Homo sapiens: one gene and its partners. The protein of the gene in region 2 purifies or fractionates together with the protein of the main gene of each other region. This does not show direct contact. Each region holds a gene or a part of one and is shown on either strand. Other genes may lie near its edges. The genes, in order: PJA2, BBS4 and RAB3IP.

The links.
Region 1: the proteins of BBS4 (region 2) and PJA2 purify together in Homo sapiens (affinity purification with western blotting, with the first as the bait; one study listed by BioGRID). This does not show direct contact.
Region 3: the proteins of BBS4 (region 2) and RAB3IP purify together in Homo sapiens (co-immunoprecipitation; one study listed by IntAct). This does not show direct contact.

What each region holds. Positions count from the first base shown.
Region 1 is NC_000005.10:109,403,415-109,407,068, reverse strand, and holds part of PJA2 (E3 ubiquitin-protein ligase Praja-2), read left to right. Parts: intron 1-3,654.
Region 2 is NC_000015.10:72,689,132-72,692,785, reverse strand, and holds part of BBS4 (BBSome complex member BBS4), read right to left. Parts: intron 1-3,654.
Region 3 is NC_000012.12:69,759,239-69,762,892, forward strand, and holds part of RAB3IP (rab-3A-interacting protein isoform alpha 1), read left to right. Parts: intron 1-3,654. UniProt on the Homo sapiens protein: Guanine nucleotide exchange factor (GEF) which may activate RAB8A and RAB8B. Promotes the exchange of GDP to GTP, converting inactive GDP-bound Rab proteins into their active GTP-bound form.

The DNA of each region.
Region 1 (3,654 bases), on a different chromosome or scaffold from region 2:
CCCAAAGTTCCCTTTTGCAGTCAATCACAATTTCACCCTCAGGACTAGGAAAGCACTTATCATCTTTTTCTTGCTATAAATTGGTATCATTTTGTCTAGAATTTCATGTAAGTGGAATGATGTAATACATACTCTTTTGTATCTGGCTTTTTCTCTTGGCATGTTTTTCAGGATTATCCATGTTTTTCTGTATTTAACGGGTTCTCATTTTATTGCTGAATAGAAGTCCTTGGTATTGATTTACTAGTTTGTTGACCATTCCACCTATTTACAGATACTTGGATTGTTTCCAGTTTGGGGCTGTTATTAATAAATAGCCTTCATTTGTTGAACATTCCTTTATTCAATGAACATTCATTTATTTTGAATTTTTGTGAACATCTTTTTTTTCTTGGTAAATACCTAGACATGGAACTTGTTGGGTTGTATGATACATGGATGTTTATAAGAAACTGCCAAACTGTTTTCCAGAGTGGTTGTCACATTTTACATATCCATCAGCAGTGTATGACAGTTCCAATTGCTCCACATCATCCTCAGCACTTGGTTATTTCAGTCTTTTAAATTTTAGCCCTTTTAGTGGGTATATAGTAGTATCATACTGGGATTTTGATTTGCATTTACCAGATGACTAATGGTGCTGAGAATTTGCTCTAGTGTATGTCTTCCTTTGTGAAGTATCTGTTGACATTTTTTGCTCATTAAAAAACAAACAAACAACAATGGGTGGGCCTGGCGCGGTGGCTCACGCCTGTAATCCCAGCACTTTGGGAGTCCGAGGCAGGCGGATCACGAGGTCAGGAGATCCAGACCATCCTGGCTAACACGGTGAAGCCCCATCTCTACTAAAAATACAAAAAATTAGCCGGGCGTGGTGGCGGATACCTGTAGTGCCAGCTACTCCGGCTGAGTTAGGATAATGGCGTGAACCCGGGAGGTGGAGCTCGCAGTGAGCCAAGATCGTGCCACTGCACTCCAGCCTGGGCGACAGAGCGAGACTCCGTCTCAAAAAAAAAAAAAAAAAAAAATGGGTTTGTCTTATTGAGTTGTAAGCATTTTTTAATACATTCTTTATACAACTCATTTGACACACAGAGATACATAAACACACACACACACTGCAATCTGAAGCTTGTTTTTTTTTTATTTTCCTAACTTTAAAAGAAGAGCTTTTAATTTTGATAAATTCATCTTACCAACTTTTTCTTATGATTTGTGCTTCTGTGTTCTAAGAACTCTTTGCTTAATGCAAAGTTGTGCAGATTTACTCTTAGGATTTTTCTATAAGTTTTCTAGTTTTGGCTTTCATGTCAAGGCACATTATCCATTTTGGGTTAGTTTTTGTATATGGTGTGTAGTAAGGGTCAAGGCTCATTTTCTTTTCAAATGTATATGTAGTTCTAGCACCATTTGTTGGGACTACTTTCCTTTCCCCATTGAATTAACTTTGTCAAAAGTCAGTTGATCATATATGTAAATCTGTTCCTGTACTTTTCTCTTGATCTTTATGCCTATAATTTTGCCAGTACTGAGTTATCATGGTTATTTTTACTTATAAGTATTGAAATTAGGTAATATGAATCCTTGAACTTTATTCTTTTTCAAAATTGCCTTGGCTATTCTAACTTTACCGTAAAGCTTTTAGAGGCTGCGTGTTGGTTTCTACAAAAAGACCTGAAGGGATTTTAATTTGGTTTGTGTCGAATGCATAGATCAATTTAGGAAGAATCGACATCTTGAGTCTTCCAATTCATGAATACAGGTTGTCTCCATTTATGTAGGTCTTCTTTCATTTCCTTTGTCAGCATTTTGTAGTTGCAGCATGAAGATGTTGCTCATTTTGTTGGATTTATATCTAAGTATTTAATAATTGATACCATTATAAGTGATAATTTTCTTAAATTTTAGTTTCCAGTTATTCACTGCTATATGTAAAAATACAGTTGGTTTTTGCATATGGACCTTGATGCTTGCAACCTTGCTAAATTCATTCATTTGAGTAAATTTTTTGTAGATTCTCTGGAATTGTCCTATGTAGACAATCATGTTATTTGCAAATATAGATCAGTTTTATTATTTTTGAATTTATATGTAACTCCTTCCACCTTTTCTTCTTCTTAGACTGGCTAAGACCTCCATTATGATGTTGAATAGCAGTGGTGAAAGCAGATATCCTTCTCTGTTCCTGATCTTAAGAAGAAAGCTTTGAATCTTTCATTATTGAGTGTGATAGAGTGGTGCTATAGCTTGAATGCTTATGTCCCTTCCAAAATTCATAGCATTGAAACATAATCCCCATTGTGAGGGGGATCTCAAGGAGGTGATTAGGTCATGAAGCTTCTGCCTTCATTAATGGATTCGTGTGCTTATAAAAGAGGTCCCAGAGAGCTCCTATCCCCTTATGCCGTATGAGAACACAGTGAAAAAACTGCAGTCTGTGAACCAGGAAGTGGCTCTCACCAAACGCTGAATCTACCAGCACCTTGATTTTGGACTTCCCAGCCTCCAGAACTGTGAAAAATAAATTTCTTTTATTTTTATTTCTATTTTTTTTTGACAGAGTCTTGCTCTGTCGGCTAGGCTGGAGTGCAGTGGCAGTCTCAGCTCGCTGCAACCTCGGTCTCCCAGGCTCAAGCAATTCTGCCTCAGCCTCCCGAGTAGCTGGGATTACAGGCGTATGTCACCATGCCTGGCTAATTTTTGTATTTTTAGTAGAGACGGGGTTTTACCATGTTGGCCAGGCTGGTCTCAAACTCCTTACCTCAGGTAATCCACCTGCCTTGGCCTCCCAAAGTGCTGGAATTACAGGTGTGAGCCACCGCGCCCAGCCGAGAAATAAATTTCTGTTGTTTATAAGCCACTTCAGTCTATGGGAGCTTGTTATAGGAGTCCTAATGGACTAAGACAAGTGGCCTTTTATCATATTGAGGATGTTCCCATTCTATTCTTGGATTGCTGAGAGGTTTTTGTTGTTGTTGTTGTTGTTGTTGTTGTTTTTGAGATGGAGTCTTGCTCTGTTGCCCAGGCTGGAGGGCAGTGGCACCATCTCAGCTCACTACAGCCTCCGCCTCCTGGGTTCAAGTGATTCTTCTGCCTCAGCCCCCTGAGTAGCTGGGATTACAGGTACACGCCACCAAGCCTGGCTAACTTTTTTGTATTTTTGTAGAAATGGGGTTTTACCATGTTGGCCAGGCTGGTCTTGAACTCCTCACCTCGTGATCTGCCCGCCTTGGCCCCCCAAAGTGTTGGGATTACAGGCATGAGCCACTGCGCCTGGCAGAGAGTTTTTTTTTTTTTTTTTTTTAAATCATGAGTGGATGTTGATTTTAGTCAGGTATTATTACTGTATTTATTGAGATGATCATATGGTTTGTTTCTGTGTTAATGTGATGAATTACGTTAACTTATTTGCGAATGTTGAATCATCTTCCATTCTGTGGTTAAACCTCACTTGGTGATGGTGTATTATCTACTATCATTTTTATAAATTGGTGAAATTTTTTTTTTTTTTGCATCTATGTTCATGAAAGATACTTTTTCATATAATGCTGGTTTCATAGAGTTGCAAAGTGTTTCTTATATTTTTGAAAAAGAATTTATTAGGATTAGTATTATTTGTTTTACAATTTTTTTTAGAGTTTGCATGTGAACTCT
Region 2 (3,654 bases):
CCTCTATAAAAAAAACTTTAGAAATTAGCCAGGCATAGTGGCAGGTGCCCTTAGTCCTAGCTACTCAGAAGGCTGAGGTGGGAGGATCTCTTAAGCCCAGGAAGCGGAGTTGCAGCAAGCCATGATTGGACCACTGCACTCCAGCCTGAGGAACAGGCTCAAAACAAACAAACAGCCAGGTGTGGTGGCTCACACCTCTAATCCCAGCACTTCGGTAGGCTGAGGCAGGCCGATTGCTTGAGTTCAGGAGTTTAAGACCAGCCTGGGTAACATGACGAAACCCCGCCTCTACAGAATATACAAAAATTAGCCAAGTGTGGCCTGCGCCTGTGGTCTCAGCTACTCGGGAGGCTGAGGTGGAAGGATCACTTGAGCCCAGGAGGCAGAGGTTGCAGTGAGCCAAGATCACGCCACTGCACTCCAGCCTGGGTGACAGAGCAAGACTCTGTCTCAAAAAAAAAAAAAAAAAAAAAAAAAAAAATTGCAATGTAAATTATCACATTAAGACATAATTTCATATCCACCATGACTGGTGGCAGAAGCATAAATTGTTACAACCACCATATAGTTTCCTGTAAGTAATAAAGTTACTCCATTACCTAGCAATCTATTTCTAGGTATACCTTAGAGAAACTCTTAGATATTGCATCAGAAGACCTACATAATAATGCTCAGGGCTAGGACTAAAGTGAGGCATGTGAAGAACCTAGGGTATAAACCTTAAGAAGGTACTTACTCTTACTCCATAAAATGTGAACCCTAAGCACCTCACTTACCTTTCCTTAGTCTTGGCCATATTTATAGCAGCTTTTTTTTTTTTTTTTTTTGAGACGAAGTCTCGCTCTGCCAAGCTGAAGTGCAGTGGCACAATCTCGGCTCACTGCAACCTCCGCCTCCTGGGTTCAAGTGATTCTCCCGCCTCAGCCTCCCGAGTAGCAGGGACTACAGGCGCGCAGCACCGCATCCTGCTAATTTTTGTATTTTTAGTAGAGACGGAGTTGCACCATGTTGGCCAGGATGATCTCGATCTCTTGACCTCATGATCCGCAGCCTCGGCCTCCCAAAGTGCTAGGATTACAGGCGTAAGCCACTGCACCCAGCAGCAGCATTGTTTTTAATAACTAAAAACCAGAAATAATCCCGATCTCCATCTAGTGGAATGGATAAGTTAATTGACATACTTTACTACAATAAGATACTATACAGTGTTGAAATAATGAATAAACTGAAGGTTAATAACAAATTTTAAAAACTAATATATTAAGGATATATATAAACATATATGGTAAAACTATAAAAAGTACAAAATATTAATATAAAATTGAAGAAACACTACATCTGATGTGGAGGAAGGAAAATGCAGTAGGAGAGAGGCATTTAGGAGGTTTCAAAGTTATTAATAACCCATTTCCTAACCTGGGCAGTAGGAACACAAGTTTCCATTATATTATCCTTTAAAGCACACATACGACATTTTAAGCACTCTTTTACAGGTAGGATATATTTCACAACAACAAAAATTAATCCTCAAAATAAAAGAGAATACTTATGTGAGGCAGGCCAATTGCTTGAGTTCAGGAGTTTAAGACCAGCCTGGGCAACATGGCAAAACCCCGCCTCTACAAAATATACAAAAATTAGCCAAGCGTGGCCTGCACCTGTGGTCCCAGCTACTCGGGAGGTTGAGGTGGAAGGATCACTTGAGCCCAAATGAGGGGCTCATTTGGTTAATGATCTTGATTTAAAAATTCACAAAAATTTATAAAGACATTTCACCAAAGAGATACGGGTGGAAAATAAACATATAAAAAATCTTCAATATCATTATTCATGAAGGAAATACAAATTAAAACCACCATACACCATCACTACCCATCCACTACAACAGCTAAATAAAAACAAACTGACAAACCAAGTGTTGACAGGGATGTGGAAAAATCACAACCCTCATGCATTGCTCATGGAAATGTTAACTCGTATATAGCCTGCAGAAGTTAGGCAGATTTGTTTCTGTTTTTTTAAACAAATACTTAAACAATATAACCCAGCAATTCCATTGACACAGGAACCCTTCTGGAGTGATGGACATGTTTTAAAAGCAGCCTCTGATGACAGCTGTGCAACTATATAAATTTACTAAAACTGATCAAACTTTGTACTTAAATTGAGTAAATTTTATGGTACGTGTATTATACCTCAACAAAACTGTTTTTTAAATGTTAACTCAATTTTTTAAAATCTAACTAGAATTTCTTAACTTTGGGGAATATACTACTAAAGAATGTTAAAGACTCAAAAAGCACCTTCAAAGGTCAGCAACCCTTCTTTCTGCACAAAGCAGAATTATTTTTTTGATGAGTCTTTTACTCAAGACTTTCCAGAACATTTTGAGATGGAAAGGATTCTATTAGCCCACTCAATCTCATTCATAGGATTTATATAGAACAAATTATTTTATTCTGTTATTTCTTCATTTTTATATAGTTTTATGATCATTTATTCATCCAACAAATATTCATGGAGCACCTGATACATAGGCACTATATCTGAGCCAGATCAACTAGTGTACTAATTTCTGTTTTCTGCTCTTATCAGTTTAATCCTTCAATTTACAGGATGACATATTTATCCAAATACATCAAATAATGGGAATCAGGGCATTATAAAAAAAATTTATAGGCTGGGTACAGTGGCTCGCCTGTAATCCCAGCACTTTGGGAGGCTGAGTCGGGCGGATCACAAGGTCAGGAGATTGAAACCATCCTGGCTAACACGGTGAAACCCCGTCTCTACTAAAAATACAAAAAATTAGCTGGGCGTGGTGGCAGGCGCCTGTAGTCCCAGCTACTCCGGAGGCTCAGGCTGGAGAATGGCGTGAACCCGGGAGGCGGAGGTTGCAGTGAGCCGAGATCGCGCCACTGCGCTCCAGCCTGGGCGACAGAGCAAGACTCCGTCTCAAAATAAATAAATAAATAAATAAATAAATAAATAAATAAATAAATAAAAAGATTTATAAGCACAAATCATGAAAGCCAGAGTTAGTTGCTCATTCATTTTTTGTTTTTTTCAGACAAAGTCTCACTCTGCCCCTGCTGGAGTCCAGTGGCATGATCATGGCTCACTGGAGCCTCAACTTCCCCCAGGCTCAGATGATCCTCCCCAGTAGCTGGGAAGACAGGCGCGTGCCACCACGTCTGGCTAATTTTTGTGTTTTTTGTAGAAATGGGGCTCCAACATGTTGCCCAGACTGGTCTCAAACCTCTGGACTCAAGTTATCCTCTCACCTCAGTTTCCACAAGTCCTGGCATTACAGGCATGAGCCACCAAGTACAGCCTGTTTGCTCATTTTTTAAGAATTCTAAACTATACTGAAAATACAAATATTAGTCCTCAGTTTTCCTTCTAAGGAACTGGTAGCAATCCGTAAGTAATTTTGGTAGCATACTAGAATTTCTGCGTCCCACACTGGGCTAGTTTTACTCAGTTTTGATGGGGTGTCTTCTGGCCTCAAGGCCTTGACTGTAGCCTTCTTAGATTTTTAGCTATACATTTCTTCAAAAATTCTGTGAGTTTTGAGTCTTTTCCTTTTCTCTCCTCCATATCCATATATCCTTATCTACGGATCTATATGTTTTCCTTTGTGTTATGAAATTA
Region 3 (3,654 bases), on a different chromosome or scaffold from region 2:
CGCCCTTAATCCATTTAACCCTGAGTGGACACAGCACATGTTTCAGAGAGCACAGGGTTGGGGGTAAGGTCATAGATCAACAGCATCCCAAGGCAGAAGAATTTTTCTTAGTACAGAACAAAATGAAGTCTCCTATGTCTACTTCTTTCTACACAGACACAGCAACAATCTGATTTCTCTATCTTTTCCCCACCTTTCCCCCTTTTCTATTCCACAAAACCGCCATCGTCATCATGGCCCGTTCTCAATGAGCTGTTGGGTACACCTCCCAGACGGGGTGGTGGCCGGGCAGAGGAGCTCCTCACTTCCCAGAAGGGGCGGCCGGGCAGAGGCGCCTCCGACCTCCCGGACGGGGCGGCGGCCGGGCGGAGGCGCCCCCCACCTCCCTCCTGGACGGGGCGGCTGGCTGGGCGGGGGCTGAACCCCCACCTCCCGGACGGGGCGGCTGGCCGGGCAGGGGCTGACCCCCCACCTCCCTCCCGGACGGGGCGGCTGCCGGGCGGGGGCTGACCCCCCACCTCCCTCCCGGATGGGGCGGCTGGCCGGGCGGGGGCTGACCTCCCACCTCCCTCCCGGACGGGGCGGCTGCCGGGCGGAGGGGCTCCTCACTTCTCAGACGGGGCTGCCGGGCAGAGACGCTCCTCACCTCCCAGACGGGGTCGCGGCTGGACAGAGGCGCTCCCCACATCTCAGACGATGGGTGGCCGGGCAGAGACGCTCCTCACTTCCCAGACGGGGTGGCGGCCGGGCAGAGGCTGCAATCTCGTCACTTTGGGAGGCCAAGGCAGGCGGCTGGGAGGTGGAGGTTGTAGCTAGCCGAGATCATGCCACTGCACTCCAGCCTGGGCAACATTGAGCCCTGAGTGAATGAGACTCCGTCTGCAATCCCGGCACCTCGGGAGGCCGAGGCTGGCGGATCACTCACGGTTAGGAGCTGGAGACCAGCCCGGCCAACACAGCGAAACCCCGTCTCCACCAAAAAAATACGAAAACCAGTCAGGCGTGGCGGCGTGCGCCTGCAATAGCAGGCACTCGGCAGGCTGAGGCAGGAGAATCAGGCAGGGAGGTTGCAGTGAGCCAAGATGGCAGCAGTACAGTCCAGCTTTGGCTCGGCATCAGAGGGAGACCGTGGAAAGAGAGGGCGAGGGAGACCGTGGGGAGAGGGAGAGGGAGACTGTGGGGAGAGGGAGAGGGAGAGGGAGAGCCTCCAACTCTCCTCTTGCTCAGGATCCGTTTGGGGACTTGCTCTGTGTGTTCATTCCTTTGGTATTCATTTCTTCATGTGGATCCAGATTTCCAACTCGTATCATTTTTCCTTTGGCTTGAAGGACATCCTTTTACATTTTTGTTGTGCATGTTTGATGGTGATAAATTCTTTTAGCTTTTGTATGTCTGTGTTCATTTTTGGTTTTTGAAAGATATTTTCACTGAGTAAAGAATTTAAGATTGATAATTTTTTTTTTTTTGTTACTGTAAAGATGTTGCTTCAGTGTTTTCAAGCATGTACATTGTTTCTCACAAGAAGTCTGCTGTTACCCTTACCTTTGTTCCTCTGCGTATTAGGTCTTTTCTCTCTGGCTGCTTATGAGAGTCCTCTCTCACTGGCATAAGCAATGTGATTGTGATTTGCTTTGGTGTAGTTTCTTCAGCTTTCTTATGTTTGGGATTTATTGAGCTTCTTGAAGCTGTAGGTTGTTAGTTTTCATAAAATTTGGGAAATTTTGGCCTTTATATCTTCAAAAAGTTTTCCATTCTTCCTCTCTCTCTCCTTTCCTCTGGATTCCTATTACATGTACATTAGACTGCTTAAACTTATCTCACAGCTTGCTGGTGTTACAGTCTTTCATTTAAAAATCTTTTTTTCCTCACTGTGTTTCATTGTGGGTAGTTTCTATTGCTATGTCTTCAAAGTCACTACTCTTTTCTTCTGAAATATCTAATCTGTTAATCCCATACAGTATGTTTTTAAACTAGACATTGTAGTTTTCATCTCTGAAAGTTTGATTTGGATCTTTTTTATACTTTGCTTGCTCTGCTTAATATGTTGGGATGCAGTTTAATAAATGTTTTGTTTCTAATTATTTCATCTCTTCAGATAATAAGCTGGGGCAGATCTGGGGTGCACATTTTGTTTTTCATTTCTAGGGGATCACTGTCTTTTATTGCCTAATATCAAATGCTTCAAATTGTTGATCCATATATTTTTTCAGAGTTTTAGTTGTGTCAGATGGGTGGTAAATCTAATCCCTGTTCCTCTATCTTAATTGGAAGTGAAAGTTCTACTTACTCATTTATATTACTTCATTGTCTACCCCATTCAAGTAATCCACATAGAAAAACCTGCATTTATACACACATGCTTCAGTACTTCTGAGATTCATGAGGATAAGGATTGCATATGTTTGTGCTCATGATTATATCTTGAGCATATAATGGGTTTTCAATACATTTTGTTGATTAAATGAATATATACATGTATATGCGGTTATACAAGTGTTTGTATACACACATGCCTGATATATTAGGGTGATGCTTATAAGTAACCCCCAAATTTTCGTGACTTTACCTAATAGAAGTTCATTTTTATTCATTTAACACTCTGAAGCAGATGTTCATAGTTGGTAGGCAGTTCTCTGTGAAATAATTCAGAGATCTGTTTCTCTTCTGTTTGGGGCCTTTGTAATTTCTTAGGGTTTTATTGTTATTTGTATCTAACCAATGAGACAAAAGGGAAAGACAGCTTAGAGAAGGTACAGCTTCTTCTAAAAAACCTTGGCTTAGATATGATACACATCACTTTTGCTCACATTCTATTGGTGTGAACCTTTCATGCCAATACCTAGATGTATGGTGGGCTGGGTAATGTAATCCCTGGATGGACAACCACTTCCCAGCAACAAATCCATACTGTGTGTGTAGGGGGACCAATCATGTGGTCACTTATTTTCAGGTGCAGGGATGCCAGAGATTATGATGTAGTCATTTAGCTGTTTGGCCTTCCATAGGATATTTCTGAAGAGCAGCTTTTAGTGGAATTCTCAGGAGGAAATTGGGCTTTAGTGCATTCTTATTAAGTATAGATCCTTGCACTCTACTCCAGATCTGCTGAAATCAAATTATTGTGTTGAGGTTTGGGAATATGCATTTTCATCAAACTTGTTGATTCTTACATTCACTAAAAGGTGAAATCTGCTGTAAGAGGTTATTTTAAACTTTTATTTTTCTTAAAAGAAAATGAGCTGGGCGAAGTGGCTCACGCCTGTAGTCCCAGCACTTTGGGAGGCCGAGGCGGGCAGATCACCAGGTTAGGAGATCGAGACCATCCTGGCTAACACGGTGAAACCGCTTCTCTACTAAAAATACAAAAAATTAGCCAGGTGTGGTGGCAGACGCCTGTAGTCCCAGCTGCTTGGGAGGCTGAGGCAGGAGACTGGCGTGAACCCAGGAGGTGGAGCTTGCAGTGAGCTGAGATTGCGCCACTGCACTCCAGCCTAGGCAACAGAGGGAGACTCCGTCTCAAAAAAAAAAAAAAAAAAAAAAAGAAAAAAGAGAAAAAGAGAAAAAGAAAAAGAAAATGAAATGACTTAGAAAATAAAGCCCAGTAGGATAGCTTGCAAAGAGAGTCATTGAAAATCACATACTTGCACTAACCCT